Linked DNA regions of Homo sapiens: regions 2 and 3 are each linked to region 1. The links come from fine-mapping of genetic effects on gene expression. A gene starts in region 1. Each other region holds a variant in brackets. All regions are shown on one strand. Distances are from middle to middle.

Region 1 (4,177 bases):
GGTGAGGAAGGAAGTGGTATCAAGGATGGCAAGAGATGGTATTGGGGAGTGGGCAGAGGCCACTGAATCCAACATCTCGCCTGCCCAGCGATGGAGCCTTGGGATTTTCCTGTGGGTGACAGGGAGCCATTGAAGCGTTTAAGGACTGGTCGTGGGGTGAGGGGAGTGTACTGTCATCATTTTTGTAGTCTTTTGCAGAGAAAATTTGGAGGCAGTTTGGAAAACACTCTAGAGCCTGACATGTGAGAGATGAGTTAGGAGGTCACGTGTCCCCACTTTTCTAATTTTGTATCTTCTTCAGCAAAAAAGTCTTTGCCGCCTATTCTGAGCAGATGTATGATTATTCACAAATGATATACAATACAACTGTATTCACACATTGCATGCCTTGAAACATACACAAAATGTAAACACTAAAAACATGACGTAAAAATAGATGTAAGTCTGGGAACTCGATGGAGGTGGTGGCTGCACAGCATTGTGAGTGTACTCAATGCCACAGGATTCCCCATCTTAAAACGGCTCATTTTATGGTATGTGAGTCTTAATTAAATACAAAAACCAGACAAGTGTGGGTAGATAGACATTCAATTCCTTTCTTCTCATCCTTCAGTGAACGGTCTGGTGTGCCCTGGGTGCACGTACCCCTTGGGGATTAGGGCAGTGATGAGAGGCAATGGAGGGAGGGTGTGGCTGTGGAGATGCGGACGGGAAGAAGGATCTGAGGAGTGACTGAAGAGGTAGAATGGGCAGGGCTTGGTGATGGAAGGTTGAAGAGTATTCAGCAAAGAGAAGAACGTGGGAAGCCTCCCCATTTCTGGTTTGGGTATAAGATAAAGAAACGTTTTCTCCTTGCCAGGGACATGAGGCAGACAATACTGGGATAATTTCCCAGGGCTTGGGATAGGACTGGGTGGGGAAGTTTCTAGGTATCCATTCTCAGGATAAGGACGGGCCTGTTTGGATGAGGATAATGGAGGGTCAAACCTGAAGAAGCCAGATTAGCAGAGGCAAAGTGAGAGATCAGAAGGTGGTAAACTCAGAAGGGGGTAGAGACCTGAGGAGCAAGCTGGGACAAGGCAGGAGGGAATTCACAGGCCACATGGTAAGTAATGAGTGGGGTAGAGGACAGAGCAGGGTTTCATTGTGGCGAGTCTGACGGGAGGTGCTGGGGGATGTTCCAGGAGAACAGCAGAAATGTGTGATGCTATGGATGTGGGCTTGGCAAGTTCCATCTGGAGCTGGGAAGAGGCCACCCATGGAGAACAGGAACCATGAGGCGGAGAGTGGAGCTTGCAGGAGGGCGAAAATTAAGACCAAAGAATGGAAGCCTGCCAGTGTGAGAGACCGCCTGACAAAAACCAGGAGAGTATGGAGTCATGGCGGCCCAGGCAGAAGTTCTGGGAGGAAAGAAATGGTCAACACTACAGGGAAGTCAAACACTGCCAGTGGAGACAAATAGGACAGGAACTGAAAAAGCATCCATTAGTGAATCCCTGGTGTCATTAGTGAAAATAATTCCAGGCATGAATGGGGAGAGGGAAGGGTGTCGGGCAGGAAGTCCAGTGCCCGTGGGTTGACTGAATGGGAGATGAGGAGGTAACACCCATCATGTAGGTCATGTAGAGCAGCCTTAGGACATCTGATTCCTTGCCTAAGACTCTTCTTTCCTGGTGTAGCTTTGTTCTAGAAAGGTCTGGAAGACTTGTCACAGTTCCAATGCAGGATGAGCCTTTGGTCCTGATCTCTTGGAGGCCCAGACAGCCTGGGAAACCAGCAGAGCTTTGGACAAGTTAAGCAGCCCATTGAAATCAACATTCTTGATAATCATATATCTAAGAGATTCCAAAATGTTCCTGGGATTCTTTTATGGGTCTGCATAGGGTTAGAAAGCACAGGAGTCAAAGAGACCTTCTCCCTTGGCCTCCAGGGCCACCATCCTCTGCTTTTGTCAGTTGGTCTCCCCAGAGTAGAGTCCAGGTTCCTGCTTCCAGCCTTCTGGTAGACCAGGCCCTGCCACAAGTGAGAGTTGGCCGGTTGGGTATCTGGTTTAGTCACTCGCCTCCACACTTTCACATCCTCTATCAACACCTGCACACTTGGGTTGTGACCACACATGCTCTTCCTGTTTGTACAGAAAGTGCCATTCAGAAAGCTCGCCAGCGAGAAGAGAGCTCCACGCTCAGCCTCAGAAGAAAGACGTTCAACGACTTACTGGGGAGAGAAAGAAAAGGAACGGGAGCTGAGAGGTAAGATCAAACTGGAGGGTGTGCGGGCCCTCTAGGATGCCTTGCCTGGAAGAGAGGTAGCCCCGACTTTGTGTCCTGAAGGGTGGCGCTCTAAGTAGCTGTGCCCATGCTCCGCTGGTCAGGGCAGGGGGAGCATTCTTGGTCAGCCTCACCGAGATGGTCCAGGCCCTGGTGAACAGCCAGAGGGATTGAGAAGGAAGAGATGGGATGTGACCAAAGTTGGTCACTGAAGCCGTCAGTGTGTGTGCGTGTGCATGTGTGTGTGTGTGTGTGGTAGAGGGTGCACATAAAGAAGACATAACCTGAGTGTGAACATGCTCACACACATATTTATGATGCTGGCTGGGGCCTTATGAAAAGTGTGTCTTAACCTCATGTTGCTCATTAGCTATAACCTCAAAAATAGAAACCATGACATGGCCACAGACTGGATCCCAGTCAATGGCCCCAGTGAGTGAGCTTGCAAGGAGAGATCATGGGCAGTTCCACCTAAGGCCACCGTCACTTCTGCAGAAATGACTTGGAATAATGACCTCCTCACTGTTAGGGGCTAACAGCACTATATTTGTATTTCTTGGATGGAACATTGTATATGTGTGTATTTGTGTGTGTGTGTCTGTGTATGTGCATAAACACATCATGTATTTATACACATGACATTGTGTGTATGTGTGTTTATGTGTGTATATATATGTACACACACATATGATATAATGCAATATACACAGTGACCAGATTTTTGAAACCAAAGAGAACTAATAGCAAGACAAAGGGGTTTTTTTCCTAATATGTGATTTCCTTGCTATTCGAGTCTCACATATATAAAAATGAAATATGTCTACACATGTGTTTCATAATTCCTTTTATTCAAAGAGGGGATCATTCAGGTAGCTAAAGGTCAAGTGTTTACAATAACAAAGTGGTGGTAAACTCATTCTTTGAATGTTGATCGTACAAACTAAATAATCCATCAAAAAATGTTGTCTCTGCCATTATTAAAAGCATGTGTTCCTTGGTGCAAAATTTAAGAATGTTCTAACTACAAGAGCACCTTCCTTTACCTAGGGCTATCCCATCTCACTGTTGAAGTGAAGTGATTACAGTGAAAGTAATACAGACATTTAATATTCTTAGTTTTGGTTGTGTTTCTGTCAACTGCTATTCCCTTGTTCTAGGCGTAACTGCACTTAGTGTTTAGTGGTGTTATGCATATGTATATTTGATTTGCATTTAGAAAATAGAAAAATATATACATTGCTTATTTTCCAGATTTCAAGGTTTAAATTCCCACTCTAACATGATGGTTTTAGGCAAGTCACTATACATCTCTGCATCGGAGTTCCCACATCTGTAACACAAGTACAATAGTAGATAGTAATCCCTTCCTCTTAAGAATTAAATAAGCTAATACATGTAAAGTGCTTAGACAAGTGCCTGGAACATTGAAAGGGCTCAGTAAGTATTAGCAGCTGTTATCATTGTCATCATCATCATCATCATCATCACTACCTTTTGTACAATTAAGCCATCAAACTTGAAGGGACATGGTAAGAGTTTGGGAAAGGTGAAAGGTGGGAGGTGGTGTGTGTAAAATGGGTTTGGGGGGTGACACTTAAGGCCAGAGCAGTGACATTACAGTCCTTACACTGTAGCTACAGACAAGTAGTGAGCAGGAAAGAGGAACAGCACAGAACACCCCTCCCTATGAGGCCTGCTTGTGAGAGGAACATGTTCTGGAGCTCTGTGGGCTTGATGACATGTACTCATACACATCTTGTACAGCAAACCAGGAAATAGGCACATGGAACGGTGACATCCAAATGATAGTATATAACATGCATTCAGTGCCTCTCAGGTGTGAGACGTGGTGCTCGGCATTTTACACACATTTTGTTATTGTATCTGAGCCATTGCAATTATGCTTATTT
Region 2 (4,000 bases), 230 kb after region 1:
AATACATAATACCTGCATTTACAAGCTGCATTTCTGTGCAGTTCAAGTGTTGATCAGTAAAGTTCAGTATGAGTCCTAGGGCACTGGAAACCCCAAATGACTACTGAACCTTCCTACTTGGAATTTTTCCATGTCAAAGGGGTCAGAACCTGCGACAGCAGCCAGACTCACATCCTTTGCACTGCCTGTCCCTCAGCATAAAAAGTGCATTTTCTTTCTTTTTTTTTTTTTTTCCAGAGATGAAGTCTCACTCTGTTGCCCAGGCTGGAGTGCAGTGGCACGATCTCGGCCCACTGCAACCTCCACCTTCTGGGTTCAAGTGATGCTCCTGCCTCAGCCTCCTGAGTAGCTGGGATTACAGGCATGTGCCACCATGCCCGGCTAATCATGCAAAATCATGAAGACCCATAGTGCCACATTTCCTACAAAACAGGTCAATCGATTGTCAAAAGGAAAGCATCAGACAACTAACAGAATAGATGGACTAAGGTGCTCCGCCCCAGGAAGCCCACACCCTAGCAGCTCTGACTCAGACACTGCACTGGGTTATTATACGGCATGTGTGCGCAAATCAGAAGCATTTTTTATGCCTTCCTTAGCATTTATGTAAAAGCTTTCTTTTAAGATTCTTCAGTTAAACTTCACCAAATATCAGAGTGAGCTTGGATAAGAGGGAAGGCATTGTAGAGTCTTAATTTCCTATGTGGAGAAGTGTCTAATGTTAGCTCTAATTATGTGATTTGTCCAGCCAAACAGCGAAGCTGGTCAGAGCTCCCGAAATGATCACATATATCTTAGCCTTCCAAACTACAATGCTATTCTTATGTCCTTCTTTAGAAAAGAATGTAAGGTGACTTGTTAAAATTCATGCAATTATTACATTGTAAGTAAAAGTAGCCTGTAGACAGGATTTGAGCTTCCTAGCAGCTGAAGTTAAAAGAGAAACTCGAAGGGCTTTGAGAGTCATATTGTCCTTAAATATCAACTTAGCAACTTAGAGAAGCACAGTTTTCCTTACACTTTGGTCCAAGACATGTTATTCCTGTTTGCACTATTACACAGTGATGCAGAAGGCAAGATTGTTTATGGCATCCTTGTAATAATTAGCAGTTTTCATCTAGAAGTTTCTGATGCATACCTTTGCACATGCAGTGATCAAAATGAAGTACAGTAGCAGTGGAGGAAGAACATATTTGTATCCTCTATCTAGACCTTTCCTTAATGTTTTATAATATCCAAATGCTACTACATAATATAGTATATTATTAATCAAGTCTAGTTTTGAAAAATCTGCTTGGAAATGAAAACAAATGAGCAATAAAAATGCTAACTACCAATGCTTAGTGAATAAATAATGGGAGAATTGTTTTCTATTATTGTCTAAACAGAAGTATGCTTATTCTCAAATCAGGTATTAAGAGTGCTTTTCTCCTGAATGGTCATTTTAATAGAATTAATATTTAGCGAATAGTCTCTGAGGCAGGGGATAGCATTGTAGTAATGCTCTTTTCAATCCAAATCAGTACATTTTGTATTTCAAAGTTCATTTCAGATTGAACATACTGCGGCTATACATAAGAAGGTTATTTATTTATTTATTTTTAGCTCTTTTTAACTTTATTACCTCTGTAAAGACCCTATCTCCAA[A/G]TAATGTCACATTGTGAGGAACTGGGGTTAGGACTTCAACACATGAACTTTTGGCAGAATATAATTCAGCCCATAACACTGTGTTTATCCACTTGGTTTCATAGGTACTTCACAACTGCATAAAGATAGGGAAAAAACTCAGCACATTCTGAAGTAGAAAGCTGATCATATTGTCAATGTGTTAAAATATTGGGCATAATTTACGTGAAAGTTGAGAAGCAATTTCAAAATGAATCTCCTTTCTTTGCAAGGAATGCCACATTCTTGGTTTTCACTGTGCAGCTGACATGGCCTATACCGAGACCCAAAAGAACTTCTCCACTCTGTGGAGAAACGCTTTTTCTTTTTTCTTTTCTTTTTTTTTTATTATTATTATACTTTAAGTTTTAGGGTGCATGTGCACAACGTGTGGGTTTGTTACATATGTATACATGTGCCATGTTGGTGTGCTGCACCCAGTAACTCGTCATTTAGCATTAGGTATATCTCCTAATGCTATCCCTCTCCTCTCCCCCCAGTAACTCGTCATTTAGCATTAGGTATATCTCCTAATGCTATCCCTCCCCCCTCCCTCCAGTAACTCATCATTTAGCATTAGGTATATCTCCTAATGCTATCCCTCCCCCCTCCCCTCACCCCACAGCAGTCCCCGGTGTGTGATGTTCCCCTTCCTGTGTCCATGTGTTCTCTTTGTTCAATTCCCACCTATGAGTGAGAACATGCGGTGTTTGGTTTTTTTGTCCTTGCGATAGTTTGCTGAGAATGATGGTTTCCAGCTTCATCCGTGTCCCTACAAAGGACATGAACTCATCATTTTTATGGCTGCATACTATTTCATGGTGTATATGTGCCACATTTTCTTAATCCAGTCTATCATTGTTGGACATTTGGGTTGGTTCCAAGTCTTTGCTATTGTGAATAGTGCCACAGTAAACATACGTGTGCATGTGTCTTTATAGCAGCATGATTTATAATCCTTTGGGTATATACCCAGTAATGGGATGGCTGGGTCAAATGGTATTCCTAGTTCTAGATCTAGTTCTAGATCCCTGAGGAATCGCCACACCGACTTCCACAATGGTTGAACTAGTTTACAGTCCCACCAACAGTGTAAAAGTGTTCCTATTTCTCCACATCCTCTCCAGCACCTGTTGTTTCCTGACTTTTTAATGATCGCCACTCTAACTGGTGTGAGATGGTATCTCATTGTGGTTTTGATTTGCATTTCTCTGATGGCCAGTGATGATGAGCATTTTTTCATGTGTTTTTTGGCTGCATAAATGTCTTCTTTTGAGAAGTGTCTGTTTATATCCTTTGTCCACTTTTTGATGGGGTTGTTTGTTTTTTTCTTGTAAATTTGTTTGAGTTCATTTTAGGTTCTGGATATTCCCTTTGTCAGATGAGTATGTTGCAAAAATTTTCTCCCATTCTGTAGGTTGCCTGTTCACTCTGATGGTGGTTTCTTTTGCTGTGCAGAAGCTCTTTAGTTTAATTAGATCCCATTTGTCAATTTTGGCTTTTGTTGCCATTGCTTTTGGTGTTTTAGACATGAGTCCTTGCCCATGCCTATGTCCTGAATGGTATTGCCTAGGTTTTCTTCTAGCGCTTTTATGGTTTTAGGTCTAACATGTAAGTCTTTAATCCATCTTGAATTAATTTTTGTATAAGGTGTAAGGAAGGGATCCAGTTTCAGCTTTCTACATATGGCTAGCCAGTTTTCCCAGCACCATTTATTAAATAGGGAATTCTTTCCCCACCTATTCCAAAAAAAGGTTATTTTTATTCATCTCTTGATCAATGACATGAGTGAAAAGTTGAAAACTATGTTCAGTGGCAAATAGGTGACCAGTTATTGGTTTAGACCAATAGGCAGGAGGTGACATAGCCAAAACAGATTAAAATTTATGAAATAGGAGAAAGTTGGGCAAGCATAAGCCACCTGAATGGAAACAAGCATCAGGCAGACAGTTTTGTTAAAGACCAGATAATTTGTACGCATCCCATGGTCATAGGCCAGTACTCATTCACTCGAATCAAGACTGACAGTAAAGGATCAAGATTCTCTTTGCTTGGAAGGGGAGAATCAGAAGGTAGACTCTAGTGGGACAAAAAGGATACAGTGAACCCAAGAATGAATGTGGTTAGTAAACATAGTATTTGTTTTATATTAAGAGTAGCATTCCAGCAAGGCACAGTGGCTCACACCTGCAATCGAGAGACTGAGGTGGGAGGATCGCTTGAACCTGGGAGGCGGAGGTTGCAGTAAGCTGGGATCGTGCCATTGTACTCCAGCCTGGGTGACAGGGTGAGACCCTATCTAAAAAAAACAAAACAACAACAAGAAGAAAAAAAC
Region 3 (4,177 bases), 87 kb before region 1:
CTCCCAAAGTGCTGGGATTACAGATGTGAGCCACCACACTTGGCCACATATTCATGCTAATCCTAGAGAATACAATTTTAGAGGAAAGACAAAGGAAAATCACTCATAAGCCCACCATCTAAAGAAAACGTTGCTGACATTTTTATTAATTTCCAGGCACTTTCTATACACACATTATTTTTACATTGTTGTGATCAGATTATATACGTGAATAACAGTCATGTCATTGTACATTGATACAGGTTCCCAAAATAGTTTATTTCATGATCCTGGCTGTTGCTGCCCTCCTCAAACCCTGTTTATTTATTTGTTTATTCAACAAATACTTATGGAATCCCTCATTAAGGGCCAGGTCCTGAGAGGACTGGAGTGAACCAGACAGAAAGGAATCAGCTCTGATGGAATACACATTCTTGGTGAAGGAAACACAATAAATGAATAAACAAGTGTTAAGTGTGATGGGAAGCTACTGGAAATTTGTAAGCAGGGAGTAGCGTCATCTGCTTTACATGTTTTAAAAGGTTTCCTTCTGTGTGGAGGGTGGATTGCAGGGAGAGGAGAGCAGCAGCAAGGAGGGCAGGTGGGAGGCTGCTGCGTTCCTGGAGACCAGAAAGATGGCGGTGTGTTAGTCCGTTTTCACGCTGCTGATAAAGACATACCTGAGACTGGGCAATTTACAAAAGAAAGAGGTTTAACTGGACTCACAGTTCCACTTGGCTGGGGAGGCCTCACAATTATGGCAGAAGGCAAGTAGGAGCAAGCCACATCCTACATAGATGGGGACAGGCAAAAAGAGATTGAGAACCAGGCAAAACGGGTTTCCCCTTATCCAACCATCAGATCTCGTGAGACTTACTCACTACCACGAGAACAGTTTGGGGAAAACCACCCCCATGATTCAATTATCTCCCATCGGGTCCCTCCCACAACACGTGGAAATTATGGGAGTAAAATTCAAGATGAGATTTGGGTGGGGACTCAGAGCCAAACAGTATCAGGCAGTTTGGCTGGAAGGGATGGAGGGAGGTGGAGAGGAGAGGAATGGACAGCAGTGGGGGCCACAGAGCTTGCTGATGTGTGTTATGGATATGAAACGGATGTAAGGAAACAGGAGGAATCTAGGATGGCTGCCAGGATTCTAGCTTGAATGACTGGCTGAATGAGGGAGATACAGGTTTGAGGAGAAATGGAGAGCCCTGCTGTGGGTGGGCGAGATGCCCATCCAGGAGGACACATCAAGCTTGCAGTTGGATGAGTGCCTCTGGAGTCCAGAGCCAAAGTCATCTAATGGAGACTTGTTGACACATGGCAGCATTTAAAGCTGTGGAACTGGAGGAGACCTTGGGGAGAGAGTGTGAATGGAGAAGAGGAAGGCCCTGACTTTTAAAAGCTGAGCAGAGGAAAAGGAGCAACATGGCCTATACCCCAACCACATGCTCCCTGCCTGCCACCACAGTCCCTGGGATATGTGAAATAAGAGATAGGCTCTTCTCAATAAATTATGCCATTTTTATAAAGGAATATGTAGTATTCTATAACCTCTTAAAACTGTGGAAGTCAAAGCAGCATTCTACAATTTTGATTTAAAAGATGACAAGCTGTGTATTGACAATCCAATATTTAAATCACACAATAAAACATATTTAAATTATTTTATAGGTCCACATTATAAAAACTTTTATTTTCAAGGGCTGCTTTTAAAATGTGGTGGCATTTTTACACAGTTCTGTGTATATTTTAAAATTTCCTTTGGAACTTACTTCTTGACCAATGGATTATTTAGAAGTGTGTTGTTTAATTTACAAGTGTTTAGAGATTTTCCTGACTTCCTTACCTTACTGAGTTCTGGTTTGATTTTATTATGGTCAGAGAACATAATCTGTATGATTTGAATCCCTTTACTTTTTTCTTTCTTTCTTTTTTTTTTTTTTTTTTGAGATGGAGTCTAGCTCTGTCGCCAGGCTGGAGTGCAGTGGCATGATCTTGGCTCACTGCAACCTCCACTTCCCATGTTCAAGCGATCCTCCTGCCTCAGCCTCCTGAGTAGCCGGGACTACAGGTGCCCGCCACCACGCCCAGCTAATTTTTTGTATTTTTAGCAGAGACAGGATTTCACCATGTTGGCCAGGATGGTCTCGATCTCTTGACCTTTTGATCCGCCCACCTCGGCCACCCAAAGTGCTGGGATTACAGGTGTGAGCCACTGCACCTGGCCAAATCTCTTTAAACTTTTTGAGGTTTGTTTTATGGTCCAGGATAGTGTATGTTTTCAGAACGCCCTTGAAAAAAATTGATATTCTGTTGTTATGGGGTGGAATGTTCTATATGTATCAATTAGATCCTATTGGC[T/C]AATTGCATTGTTTAGATCTTCTGTCTTCTAGCTAATTTTCTTTCTAGAAATTCTATCAGTTGCTGAGAGGAAGCTGATGAAATATCCAACTACAACTGTGGAATTGTTTATTTTTCCTTTCAGTTTTATTAGTTTTGCTTCATGGATTTTGAGGCTCCGTTACTCGGTGTGCACACATTTAGGATTGTTATTTTTCCTAGTGGATTGATTCTTTTATTATTATGTAATATCCCTGTTTGTCCCAAGTAATTTTCTTTGAGATCCACTTAATCATATATCAATACAGCTACCTCTGTTTTTGTATTATTGCTTGCATCTATCTTTTTCTATACTTTTGCTTTCGATGTACCTGTCATTGAATTTGAAATAATTTATTAAAAGCAACATATAGTTGACACACAGTTTTTAATCTACTAAACTAATCTCTGCCTTTTAATTAGTATGTTTAGACTACTTACATGTAAGGTAATTATTGATATGTTAGAGCTTAAGCCTGCGATTTTATTTTCTGTTTCTTGTAACTTTCCTATGATTCTCATTTCTGTTTCTTTTTTTTACCTTCCTATAGATTACTTGCACAAGTTTTAGAATTCCATCTTGATGTGTTTATAATGTGTTTGAGTGTATCTCTTTGAATAGCCTGTTCAGTGGTTGCTCTGGGTATTACAGTGAACATATGTGACTTATTGCTGTCTACTACTATCAACATTTTACCACTGCAAGTGGCATGTGAAAACCTTACTGCCATTCAGGCCCCTTTACCTTCCCCTCATTGACTCAAGTGAGAACTGGTCTTGTAATTTTGATTCCCTCAATCAAATATGATTGATGACACTCATAAGGAATAGGATAGCCTATCGTATGTACCCATATATTTTCTCTTTCCATTGTATTTGCTTCCTGATGCTCAAGATTCTTTCTTTCATCATTACCCTTCTGTTTGAAAACTTGCTCTAGCCATTCTCTGAAATTAGGTCTGTTAACCGCACAATCTTTTGGTGTCCTGTCATCTGACAATAGATTTATTTACTATTTATTCCTGAAGGATAGTTTTGCCAAATGTAGAATTTGTGGCTGGCAGGTATTTTTTTTTTTCCTTTCAGAGCTTGAAAAATGTGTCACTTTCTTCTGGTCTCCAGGGTTTCAGAGGAAGAGAAATTCACTGTCACGCAAACTGGTGTTTCCCCATAGGTAATGTGTCATTATCCTCTGGCTGCTTTCAAGAATTCTTTTTGGTCTTTATGTTTTCAGAACTTTAATTTGATGTGTCTTGGCATGGATTATTTTGGATGTATCCTGTTTGGGATTCACTCAACTTCTTGAATTTGTAGGTTTATGTCTTTTTGCCAAATTTGAGAAGTTTTCAGCCGTTCTTTCTTTGAATTCTCTTTCAGCCACAGAATCCTCTGGGACCCTGATGTTACAAATGTTGGATTTTTTTTGTTGTTATTTTCACACAGGTCCCTGAAGCTCTGTTCTTTTGTTTTTCAGTTTATTTTCTCTCTGTTGCTCAGATTGGGTGAAGCCTACGAGTCCTTCCTCAAGTTTATCAGTTCTAGCCTCACTCAGCTCCACTGTACTATTGAGCCCATGTAATACCTTTAATATTTTTCAGTTATTGGATTTTTCACTTCTATAATTTCTGATTGTTTCTTTTTTATAGCTTCTACTTATTTTCTGAGATTTTAATTTTTCCATTTGTGTCAACAGAATTTGTAATTCATTGTTAAAGCAGTTTTACAGTGACTACTTTTAAATACTTGTTAAATACTTTCAACATCTGATTCGTGTCAGTATTGGCATCCACTGATGGTCTTTTTTCTTTCA

Alleles and levels. Positions count from the first base shown, and alleles are read on the strand shown. Sizes are in standard deviations (SD) of each study's normalised expression. Not every link is listed here.
With allele G in place of A in region 2, the expression in prostate of the gene that starts at base 2,143 in region 1 is higher (small effect, 0.25 SD a copy in GTEx).

The links. PIP is the estimated chance that this variant, and not a neighbour inherited with it, causes the effect.
Region 2: its variant is the best candidate, but not a certain one, in a credible set for the expression of AFF3 in prostate (GTEx, PIP 0.58).
Region 3: its variant is the best candidate, but not a certain one, in a credible set for the expression of AFF3 in T cells (TOPMed, PIP 0.83).

What each region holds. Positions count from the first base shown.
Region 1 is chr2:100,140,556-100,144,732 of GRCh38, reverse strand. AFF3 (ALF transcription elongation factor 3) reads left to right here and starts at 2,143. Exons shown (of 25, transcript NM_001386135.1): 1 at 2,143-2,249.
Region 2 is chr2:99,907,624-99,911,623 of GRCh38, reverse strand. All of the region lies in intron 7 of AFF3 (ALF transcription elongation factor 3), which reads left to right. Among named protein-coding and RNA genes, the nearest start is that of AFF3, 230 kb to the left of the region's middle. The variant A/G (reference allele first, on the strand shown) is at 1,648.
Region 3 is chr2:100,227,959-100,232,135 of GRCh38, reverse strand. The region is part of intron 1 of LINC01104 (long intergenic non-protein coding RNA 1104); the gene reads right to left. Among named protein-coding and RNA genes, the nearest start is that of LINC01104, 22 kb to the right of the region's middle. The variant T/C (reference allele first, on the strand shown) is at 2,350.